3 linked regions of the Homo sapiens genome follow. The protein of the gene in region 3 purifies or fractionates together with the protein of the main gene of each other region. This does not show direct contact. Each region holds a gene or a part of one and is shown on either strand. Other genes may lie near its edges. The genes, in order: TFRC, BCAM and TSPAN14.

The links.
Region 1: the proteins of TSPAN14 (region 3) and TFRC purify together in Homo sapiens (co-immunoprecipitation; one large-scale study listed by IntAct). This does not show direct contact.
Region 2: the proteins of TSPAN14 (region 3) and BCAM purify together in Homo sapiens (co-immunoprecipitation; one large-scale study listed by IntAct). This does not show direct contact.

Annotation. Positions count from the first base shown.
Region 1 is NC_000003.12:196,050,992-196,054,639, forward strand, and holds part of TFRC (transferrin receptor protein 1), read right to left. Parts: intron 2,568-3,648; coding exon 2,427-2,567; intron 1,194-2,426; coding exon 951-1,193; 3' UTR 1-950. UniProt on the Homo sapiens protein: Cellular uptake of iron occurs via receptor-mediated endocytosis of ligand-occupied transferrin receptor into specialized endosomes. Endosomal acidification leads to iron release.
Region 2 is NC_000019.10:44,815,586-44,819,233, reverse strand, and holds part of BCAM (basal cell adhesion molecule isoform 1 precursor), read right to left. Parts: intron 713-3,648; coding exon 597-712; intron 494-596; coding exon 352-493; intron 179-351; coding exon 42-178; intron 1-41. UniProt on the Homo sapiens protein: Transmembrane glycoprotein that functions as both a receptor and an adhesion molecule playing a crucial role in cell adhesion, motility, migration and invasion.
Region 3 is NC_000010.11:80,509,728-80,513,375, reverse strand, and holds part of TSPAN14 (tetraspanin-14), read right to left. Parts: intron 1,233-3,648; coding exon 1,107-1,232; intron 1-1,106. UniProt on the Homo sapiens protein: Part of TspanC8 subgroup, composed of 6 members that interact with the transmembrane metalloprotease ADAM10.

The sequences.
Region 1 (3,648 bases), on a different chromosome or scaffold from region 3:
ACTGCTTCCGATAATTATATTCTATTAAAAAAACACCATTTATAGTGAACTCTGTCACTGATAAATAAACAATAAATATCTCAGTGCCAAAAGGACAGAAAGCTCTCCCCTAAGATTAACACTTTGGCCAAAATTTGGCAGCATATTATTCTTTAAAGTCTGACAAACTGAGTCTGCAACTAAACACCTGAAACTGGTTCTCTTTCAATGTGCTTTGGAAGAAACAAAAATAACAAAGAACTAAATGGAGGCTTATGGGGGAAGGGACAGAGGAAAAGAAAATATACTAAGTCTTTGGCTTCTGGTCCCCTCTTTTCATAAATGACACTGAGGTTAACATATTAAGGCCTTATTCCTGCAATCAACAGTTGAACCTCATTTTATCCAGCAGAAGGACCTCCATTTCAGACCTCATTGGCAAGAAAACAAGCCCATCTCTTCTGAAAGTTAACTGTTTCTTTCAGGAATGAGGAAACCAGCTACATTCCTTATGGAAAGGCTTAGATCTCATTTGGAGAAGGTCTTTCAACCTGGTATCTCCTATTTAGCATCAAATGAAGTTGGAGGATCACTCAAAGTAAGCGACCACTTACAACCTTCAGCAGAGACCAGCCCTTAGGATTCAGAGAGATCATTCACATAACTGGTTTCTGACATTTTCATTAACAACAACAGGAAAGAGGCAGTTCCCATTACAAAGCACTTAAAATTCTAGAGATAGGGGAATATTCCATCATGGACATTTTTTAAGTGGTTATTCACTTTAACTTGAAGTACAGGTTATCTACCCTGTATTAAAAGCTGCTGCCTAAAGACATCTAGTAGTACCAAGATGATGGGATGGAATTTTAACATCAGGTTTTGTAGCCCTACTGAAAATTTAGCACGATCAGCACAAGTCTAGAAACCAGACTACCCTGCTGTTCTCATGGAAGCTATGGGTATCACATTTAAAACTCATTGTCAATGTCCCAAACGTCACCAGAGAGGGCATTTGCAGCTCCCTGAATAGTCCAAGTAGCTAGAGCCAACTGGTTTCTGAACAGCGTTTCATTAAAAGCACCGTTATTTTGTTTACGCAGTTTCAAGTTCTCCAGTAAAGCTGGCAGCGTGTGAGAGCCGGAGCCCCAGAAGACATGTCGGAAAGGAGACTCTTTTGGAGATACGTAGGGAGAGAGGAAGTGATACTCCACCTACGAAAACAACACACAAGGCAATTTACACAGCCCTGTGACTTTTGTAGTAAAACAACAGTTCACTTCAAATGTAAAATGTCCCAAATTTAAGAATGCCGATCAGACTTTTTTTTTTTTTTTTTTTTTTTGACACAGAGTTTCGCTCTTGTTGCCCAGACTGGAGTGCAACAGCGCTATCTCGGCTCACTGGTACCCTCCACCTCCCGAGTTCAAGCAATTCATGCTGGGATTACAGGTGTGAGCCACCGTGCCCGGCTTTTTGTTGTTGTTGAGACAGAGTTTCGCTCTTGTTGCCCAGGCTGGAGTACAATGGCGCGATCTCAGCTCACTGCAACCTCCACCTCCCGGGTTCAAGTAATTCTCCTGCCTCAGCCTCCTGAGCAGCTGGAATTACAGGCATGCACCACCACGCCCAGCTAATTTTTGTATTTTTAGTAGAGATGGGGTTTCTCCATGTTGGTCAGGCTGGTCTTGAACTCCTGACCTCAGGTGATCCGCTTGCCTCGGCCTCCCAAAGTACTGGAATTACAGGCATGAGCCACTGTACCCAGCCAGCTGATCAGACTTTCTATAGCAGAGTAAGGAAAAAAGAATGCTGAGAACCAGGCTAATGCTAATCTTCTAAGGTTAAAATTCTAAAGGAGGCTAGGCACAGCGGCTCACGCTTGTAATACCAGCACTTTGGGAGGCCAAGGCAGGTGGATCACTTGAGGTTGGGAGTTCGAGACCGGCCTGGCTAACATGGTGAAACTCCGTTTCTACTAAAAATACAAAAAATGAGCCGGGCGTGGTGTTGGGCACCTGTAATCACAGCAACTCGGGAGGCTAAGGCAGGAGAATCACTTGAACCTGGGAGGTGGAGGGTGCAGTGAGCCGAGACCGTGCCATTGCACTCCAGCTTGGGCAACAACAGTGAAACTCTGTCTCAAAAAAAAAAAAAATTTTTTTAAAGGAAACTGATTCATTTTACAAAGGAAAACTTTAAATGTGTTCAGATTCTTTTCCCCATTGGAGCATACATGGAAGTTTTACAGCAAGTCTCTTCCAAAAAGACTAGGTTTGACTAAGTTCTGAATTAGACAGCAGAAACAGAAAATGACAGCTAAACCATTAATGCTCCCTTCTTAAAGGAATTCTAGACTCCTAGAGTTTGTCCACTTTGCAGAAGTGTAAGATTTATCGGTTATTTTACACATACTTTAGTTCCTCCTTTCCCAAAAGTTCACTTACTCTCATGACACGATCATTGAGTTTCTTCATGACAAATCTGTCTGTTTTCTCAGCATTCCCGAAATCTGTTGTTAGTCTGGAAGTAGCACGGAAGAAGTCTCCACGAGCAGAATACAGCCACTGTAAACTCAGGCCCATTTCCTGAAACAGACATTATTCGCTATGAGAAGTTTTATTTCTAAGGACATTCTTTTGTATGCCTTTCTAATTTAACGTGCGTTAAGTAAGATTCTGATAAAAGGAACTCGCAGATAAGCTCAAGACTCCGAAAGCACCTTGCACAGGGGTTCCAAGCTCTATGGACTGTGATATACACTCATATTTGAGCCCAGCATGTAAGAAAACCATTCTCATTAAGAAATTGAACATAATTATATAATCCTATGTACTATATTGTTTCCAGTTCAATTCTCCTTTTGGGGGAAAATGTCCCTATAGGGGAAAACATTTTGGTTCAAGGTACTTCAGGATTTAGTTATTTCCACCTGGTAAGTTCCATTTTCAACAGTTACAATTAGTTTCAAGAAAGACATAAGATGCCGGGCGTGGTGGCTCATGCCTGTGATCCCAGCACTTTGGGAGGCCGAGGTGGGTGGATCACCTGAGGTCAGGAGTTCAAGACCAGCCTGGCCAACATGGTAAAACCCCGGCTCTACTAAAAATACAAAAAATTAGCCGGGCGTGGTGGCCGGCACCTGTAGTCCCAGCTACTCGGGAGGCTTAGGCAGGAGAATGGCGTGAACCCGGGAGGCGCATCTTACAGTGAGCCGAGATCTCGCCACTGCACTTCAGCCTGGCCAACATGGTAAAACCCCGGCTTCTACTAAAAACACAAAAACTATCTGGGCATGGTGGCACACGCCTGTAATCCCAGCTACCTGGGGAGCCGAGGCAGGAGAATCGCTTAAAGCCGGGAGGTGGAGGTTGCAGTGAGCCGAGATCATGTCATTGCATTCCAGCCTGGGGGACAAGAGCGAGACTTCATCTCTCAAAAAAAATAAAATAAAAATAAAAATAAAAAAGATATAAAAAGATTCGGTTGTCAGTGATTTACTTCAATTAAGAGATCTGTTAAAAATCAACTCCTAGTACCATAAAACAATCTGGAAGCTACTTTAATATTAGTTTTATTAATTTATTTAGAGATGGGATTTTGCTATGTTGCCTGGGCTGGACTCCAGCAATCCTCCTGCCTCAGCAGAAGTAGCTGGGGCTACGGGTA
Region 2 (3,648 bases), on a different chromosome or scaffold from region 3:
TGAGTGAGAGGGGGCTCAGGGTGGAGAGGAAGGTCCCTTACGCTGCCCCCCAATTGGCTCCAGCTGAGTTTGGGGTCTGGATGGCCGCGGGCAGAGCAGATGAGTGTGACTTCGTCTCCTTCCCTCCAGCTGCCATCTGCCTTGGGCTCTATTTCCGCTGTCTTTAGCTCTGGCGAGCCTGTGGGTGGTGGGGATGGGAAGAAAGTGAAGGGAGAGGAGAGAGAGAGAGAAGAGAGGCATCGAGCAGAAGATGGAGTCCCCAGCCAGGGACTCAGGAACTCGTCCTGTTTGTCCAGGTCCCACACCCCACACTGTCCCCATCCAAGCCCACCCCCTCCCTGCCCCCTGAACCTTGGACCAGCAGCGTGAAGTTCTGGGTGCGGCTGAGGACCGGGACTGTGGGCAGGGAGGCCTCACATACGTAGGTGCCATTGGAATCGAAGGTGATAGAACTGAGCGACAGCATGGGGCCATCGCCCAGGGGAGTGGAGTCCTGGGAAGGGCAGAGGAGGAGGAGGACGCTGTGAGAGGGCGAGGAGTGAGGGGAGAGAGGAGGGTGCGAGTGCAGGGCCCGAGGGGGCTCCTCTCCCTCTCACCTTGGTCCAGCGTAGGGCAGGGGTGGGCAGGCCGTGCACGGAGCAGTTCACGACTGCACTGCTGTTTAGAGGTAAGGAAAGCACCTTCCCCTCGCTGAGCTCCAGGGGGTCCAGATCTGCAGTGGGGGACAGTCTGTCACTCGTCCCAGACCGCCACCCACTCAATTAGGGGCTCTCCAGGGGCGGTCGGGGGTGCAAACATGAATGGACAGTTGGAAGCAGAGAACAGCAAGTAATCCTCCTGGTTTACCCCATCTCCATGAAATCTCCATTCTCCCATCCAGGCTCTCCAACCAAAAATCTAGCAGTCTAACCCCAACATTGACATGCCCAAGTCAATTACTTTTCTTCAGAGCTGACATCTGAGCCCAAGGTTAATGAATAACCTTAGGTGTGGAAGGTGTCCCTTCTGTGACTTTAGCACACAAACCTTTTGCTCAAACCCCAACCTGTGGGGTAACCTCCCTGTTACCCCCAAACATCTTTTCTGCAAAGTTTTGTTTTTGAATAGAGACAAGGTGTTGCTATGTTGGCCAGGCTGGGTCTCAAACTCCTGGCCTCAAGTGATCCTCCTGTCTTGACCTCCCAAAAGTGCTAGGATCACAGGCGTGAGCCCCTGCTCCTGGCCTCAGCAAGTCTTTATCTGGTCTGCTCCCAGGACAAATCCTCTGGCTTCCTGCCACCTCTGGCCCCAGGTTTGACTGTCCCAACCACCTCTTCACTAGCCTGCTCCTCCCTCTTGTCCATCCTCCACTGAGCAGCTAGAGGGACCTCTTTAAAACATCCACTGGTCAGGCCGGGCACGGTGGCTCATGCCTATAACCCCAGCACTTTGGGAGGCCGAGGCGGGTGCATCACCTGATGTCAGGAGTTCGAGACCACCCTGGTCACATGGTGAAACCCCATCTCTACTAAAAATCCAAAAGCTAGCTGGGCATAGTGGTGCATGCCTATAGTCCCAGCTACTTGGGAGGCTGAGGCAGGAGAATCGCTTGAACCTGGGAGGTGGAGGTTGCAGTGAGCCGAGATTGTGCCACTGCGCTCCAGCCTGGGTGACAGAGTGAGACTCTGACTCAAAAAAAAAAAAACAAAAAAAACCAACCACCCACTGGTCATCCCTCCCCTCTGCATAAAACCCTGCAGTGGCTCCCCAGTACCCTTGGCATCGAGGCCAAACTTCTTGAGGGTGCCTAAAAGATGCTGCCTGGTCTGGCCCTCACCCACCTCTTGAACCATCTCCCACTCTTCCCCATTCCTCCTGTGCTCCCAGCTACCCCGTTCTCTTGCTGTTTTTCTTGAGTAGACCAAGTTGGGGCCTGCCTCAGGGCCTTTGCACTTGCTCACTCTACTTGCAGTGCTCTTTTTGTAGCTCTCTGCATTTCTTCTTCTTATTATTTTTTTTTGAGAGAGTTTGGCTCTGTCGCCCAGGCTAGAGTGCAGTGGCGGGATCTCAGCTCACTGCAAGCTCTGCCTCCTGGGTTCATGCCATTCTCCTGCCTCAGCCTCCCGAGTACCTGGGACTACAGGCACCTGCCACCACGCCCAGCTAATTTTTTGTATTTTTAGTAGAGACGGGATTTCACCGTGTTAGCCAGGATGGTCTCAAACTCCTGACCTCATGATCTGCCCGCCTCTGCCTCCCAAAAGTGCTGGGATTACAGGTGTGAGCCACCGTGCCCGGCCAATTTCTTTTTTCTTTGAGACAGACTCTTGCTCTGTCACCCAGGCTGGAGTTCAGTGGCACGATCTCAGCTCACTGCAACCTCCGCCTCCCAGGATCAAGCGATTCTCCTGCCTCAGTCTCCTGGGTAGCTGGGATTACAGGCACCAGCCATCATGCCTGGCTAATTTTTATATTTTTAGTAGAGATGGGGTTTCACCATGTTGGCCAGGCTGGTCTCGAACTCCTGACCTCAGGTGATCCACCTGCCTCGGCCTCCCAAAGTGCTGGGATTACAGGTGTGAGCCACTGTGCCTGGCTGCTGTCTGCTTTTCTGAGTCTCACTTAAATGTCTCTTCTCAGAGGCTTCCCTGACCTCCCCTATTGTGGACACCCAGATCTTTCCTACAGCACGGAAGGACTTATTCCACCAGCTGCTAAGAAGGATGACAGCTGTCAGCCTGCAGCTGTCACCCCTCTCTGGGAGCTGCCTCAGCTGCTGAGAGCCCCTTGCCTAAGGCCAGCACACCTCTGAGGACTGGTTGATGTAGAGGTTATTAAGGCCCAGCCCCCTCACCCCAACTGGGGACAACTGTGAAGGGCCATCCTGGATTCCAAGTACCCCGTGGGGCTGACTGAGGCCCTCTTTCTTTCTTTTATTTGTTTCTGAGATGGAGTCTCACTCTGTTGCCCAGGCTGGAGTGCAATGGCACGATCTCAGTTCACTGCAATCTCCGCTTCCTGGGTTCAAGCGATTCTCCTGCCTCAGGCTCCTGAGTGGCTGGGATTACAGGTGCATGCCACCACACCCGGCTAACTTTTAGTACAGAGGGGGTTTCACTATGTTGGCCAGGCTGGTCTCTAACTCCTGACCTCAGGTGATCCACCCACCTCGGCCTCCCAAAGTGTTGGGATTACAGGCATGAGCCACGGGGCCCGGCCTACTTTTTTATTTTTATTTTTCCTGAGACGGGGTCTTTCTCTGTCGCTCAGGCTGGAGTGCAGTGGCACAATCTTGGCTCACTGCAGTTTCAACCTTCCAGACTCAAGGGATCCTCCCACCTGGGCCTCCGAGTAGCTGGGACTACAGGTGTGTGCCACTATGCCTGGCTAATTTTTAATTTGTGTGTGTGTGTGTGCAAATGGGGTCTCCCTCTGTTGCCCAGGCTGGCCTCAAACTCCTAGGCTCATACAATCCTCCTGCCTCAGCCTCTCAAAGTGCTGGGATTATAGGCATGAACCACTGCACCCAGCCTGAGACCTTCCTTAGACTTCAGTCCAACTTCTCACCTTGCCAAATCTTGCTTCCTTTACCTCCCTAGACCCAAGAGGTGCGGAACCCAGGGTACTTCCCATAAACTTCTTGCCTGAAAACATCCAAGTCAGAATCTG
Region 3 (3,648 bases):
GTAACCCAGGACCAGGCTTTGCATAACTGCACCGAGAGCTGGCAACTGGCCCAGTTCTACTCAGGCTCAGTTCAGGCAAAATTCAGAGCTCCTTCACAGTTCACCCCAAGAACCCAGCTTCTGGAACCCAAGGACGTTGGCCTTGGATTGGGAATGCCAATAGGTAAAGAAAGGACAGGACAGGCACAGCGGCCCACACCTGTAATCCCAGCACTTTGGGAGGCTAAGATGGGCAGATCGCTTTGAGCCCAGGAGTTTAAGACCAGCCGGGGCAACATGGTGAAACCCCATCTCTACAAAAAATACAAAAATTAGCCAGGTGTGGTGCTCAAGCCTGTGGTCCCAGCTACTTGGGAGGTTGAGGCTGGAGAATTGCTTGAGCCCGGGGAAGCAATGGTTGTACAGTGAGCTGAGATCGCACCACTGCACTCCAGCCTGAGTGACAGAGTGAGACACTGTCTCTAAAATAAAACCAAACAACAACAACAACAACAACAACAACAAACAGAAAATAATTAGCCGGGTGTGGTGGCGTGCACCTGTAATCCCAGCTACTCAGGAGGCTGAGGCAGGAGAATCGCTTGAACCCAGGAGACAGAGGTTCCAGTGAGCCAAGATCATGCCACTACACTCCAGCCTGGGCGACACAGCAAGACCCTGTCTCAAAAATAAAAGAAAGAGAAAAAGAAAGAAAATAATTCTCCACTACTGTTCCCCAGTTAATGATGTGTACCCACAGCCCCCGTGCACTGTTGAGTTCTAGGAATCTGCTCCAGAAAAAGGACAGGGAAGAGGGATAAGCGGGCCTTATTTCACTCATAGCTCTTGGCCAGCTGCAAGTGACAGCCCTCCAGGTAGAAATAATACTGTTTTTCTCCTGCCTCACCCAGAACACCAAGGCCAGGGTGGGTCATGCAAGCAGTGTTCCTAGAATGTACACATATCGGATTTCAGAGCTGAGGCAGCCTTGAGGAGGGTGTGGAGAAAGCACACCTGCTCCTCAGACCTCCATGACAGAGAAGTATCCTAGAGCACTGGAGGAGTCAGGAAAGCTTCTGGGCTTCAGGAAGGGCGGGCTCCCTGTGCCCCAGCACAAGCCAACTCACCGCAGGATCTGGCACGCAGCAGGAGAAGGGGACCCCGCACTTCTCTCGGCTGTAGCTGGCACCGCTGCAATTGAAGTAGACGTTGAGGTCCCAGTCTTCAGGGCCATATGCGCCACAGCACTGGTTCTGCAACCACAAAAGCCAGAACTGTTAGGGGCTCCAAGACAGGGCCATGGCTGCCCAGCATAGGGCATCATTCATAGTGATGCCAGGCTAAGTCTGCCGGCATCTACCATGCAGAGAAATCAAGGCCCGCCCCCTACCTCCCATGTGCAGAGATGCTAAGCTGGCAACCCAGGCAGCCCTTTAAGAAGAAAACAGCTAGGCGTAGTAGCTCAGGCCTGTAACCTCAGTGACTCGGGAGGTTGAGGTGGGAAGATGGTTTGAGCCCAGGAGTTGGAAACAAGTCTGGGCAACACAGCAAGACCCCCACCCCCAATCAGAAAGAAAGAAAGGAAAGAGAGAGAGAAAGAGAAAAGGAGAGAAAGAAAAAAGGGGAGAGAGAGAGAGAGAGAGAGAGAGAGAGAGAGAGAGAGAGAGAGAGAGAGAGAGAGAGAGGACCTGCCCTTTTGATGTGTTAAAGAAAATAATAACAAAAAGGAAATGGCAGTGAAGGTATCTCCGGGCCACGGTGCCTCCTCTGTCCAACCCACATGGCTGGCTCAGTGGAGCCCTCTGGCCCCACTGCCAGGCACAACATACCCAGCCCTGGCCCTCCTTAGCAGGGAGCTTGCTCTTCTTCCCAGCCTCCTCAAAGGAGACGCCTCCTTCCAGCCTCCTCAGACAGGAGAGTGGCGTCCTCTCCTTTGTGGCCCCCTCGGCACCTTGGTGTGGTCCTCTACTTGCCACAAGAGAACACTTCCTAGTGTGCAGTGTTCTTCCTCCCTGAGAAACTTGCAAGTGAATTCCCCTTTTCACCCCTTTACAAAAAACAGCTGCTAAGTGTCTGCTCCTGAGGAAAAGAGGTCCGATGAAGGTGAAAGGTAACACAATCAAAGCTCTGCCCCACACCTGGGGCCTCTGCCCTCCCCTTCCTCGCATCTGGTGTGGCTACAAAGAAAATCCTTATTTGACTAAAAAGTGTGTAAAATCCAAACACTGAAAGCATCATTGTGAAGTTGACAGTGTCTTTTCCCCTAAAAAACTTCTTTGCATTTGCCCTTACAGCTGACATGGTTATGGCAATAATCACAACAAATGACAACAGTGATTTCTGGTTGGTTATTTTGTTTTGCTTACTTCTCAGGTAAAATTGTCTCCCCCACACCTCCACGGTTCCACTTGCTTTAGTGATTACCTGAAATTTCACTCCAAGGAAGCTCTGTAATTTACTGAATCCCTCCCCTGGGAAGTTTTGTTTTGTTTTGTTTTAATTTATTTATTTTATCTTTTTTTTGAGACGGAGTCTTGCTCTGTTGACCAGGCTGGACTGCAGTGGCGTGATCTCGGCTCACTGCCAGTTCCGCCTCCCGGGTTCACACCATTCTCCTGCCTCAGCCTCCCGAGTAGCTGGGACTACAGGTGCCCACCGCCACACCCCACTAATTTTTTGTATTTTTAGTAGAGATGGGGTTTCACCATGTTAGCCAGGATGGTCTCGATCTCCTGACCTTGTGATCCACCCGCCTCAGCCTCCCAAAGTGCTGGGATTACAGGCGTGAGTCACCGCGCCCGGCCAGAAGTTTTATTTTTAAAAGAAAAAGAAGTCAATGCAGAAAACTATGTTTTTAAGGCAATGCAGGGATGAACCGCAACCTAGCATGCTGAGACCAGGCAAGCCAAGGCTACGTGAAAATGAAAAAAGGACGGTGGCACTGAACAGAAAAGAAAGGAGAGGCATCAAAACATGGCGGGGATTTGGTGACTTTCACAGACTAATACACATTAGTAATAACAATACAGGCAGGGTCTTTGGTCCCATAAATGGGTTTTGCTGGATCCCATAATACATGAAATAAAGGTGAACAAGTTTTGGTTAATAATGAGAGTGAATCATAGATTTTTAATGGTTTCTGATTTATTTTCTTCTCAAAACCAAAGTGTTCCACATGAAAAGTTCTTAAGGAAGCTGGGCTTTCTGTCAGCACACAGATCAAACAAGAGCCTTGCATTGCACAGGCTGACATGGCCAAGGAGTGGGTTCCTCCCCAGGGGGCTGTGACAGCTATGGTCCAAGCGTCCAGGTGCAGCCACACATGAGAGAGATAAGAGGGATGGGGACCAGATGGAGTAAAGGCCATAGCCTGGAACTGCTTAGACAAACCCCTGGGCACATATTCCAGGGAGGTCACATTCCACTAGATCTGACAAAGCTTCCTCCAGGCAGCCCTGGCTTCTTAAACAGGAAGGGGAAAAGGTCCCAGGGAGGAAGGGGAAAAGGTCCCGGGGAGGAAGGGGATAGGAATAGCGTCAGATGGTGAGTCATGAGCCGGGGGGAAGAAGCTGTGCCTTACGGTATGCAGCGCCTAAGGAGGATTGCAGCTGGTATGGCTATTGGGCAGGATTGGAAAGATCTGGGGCCGAAAGAGGAGGGCCGGGCACG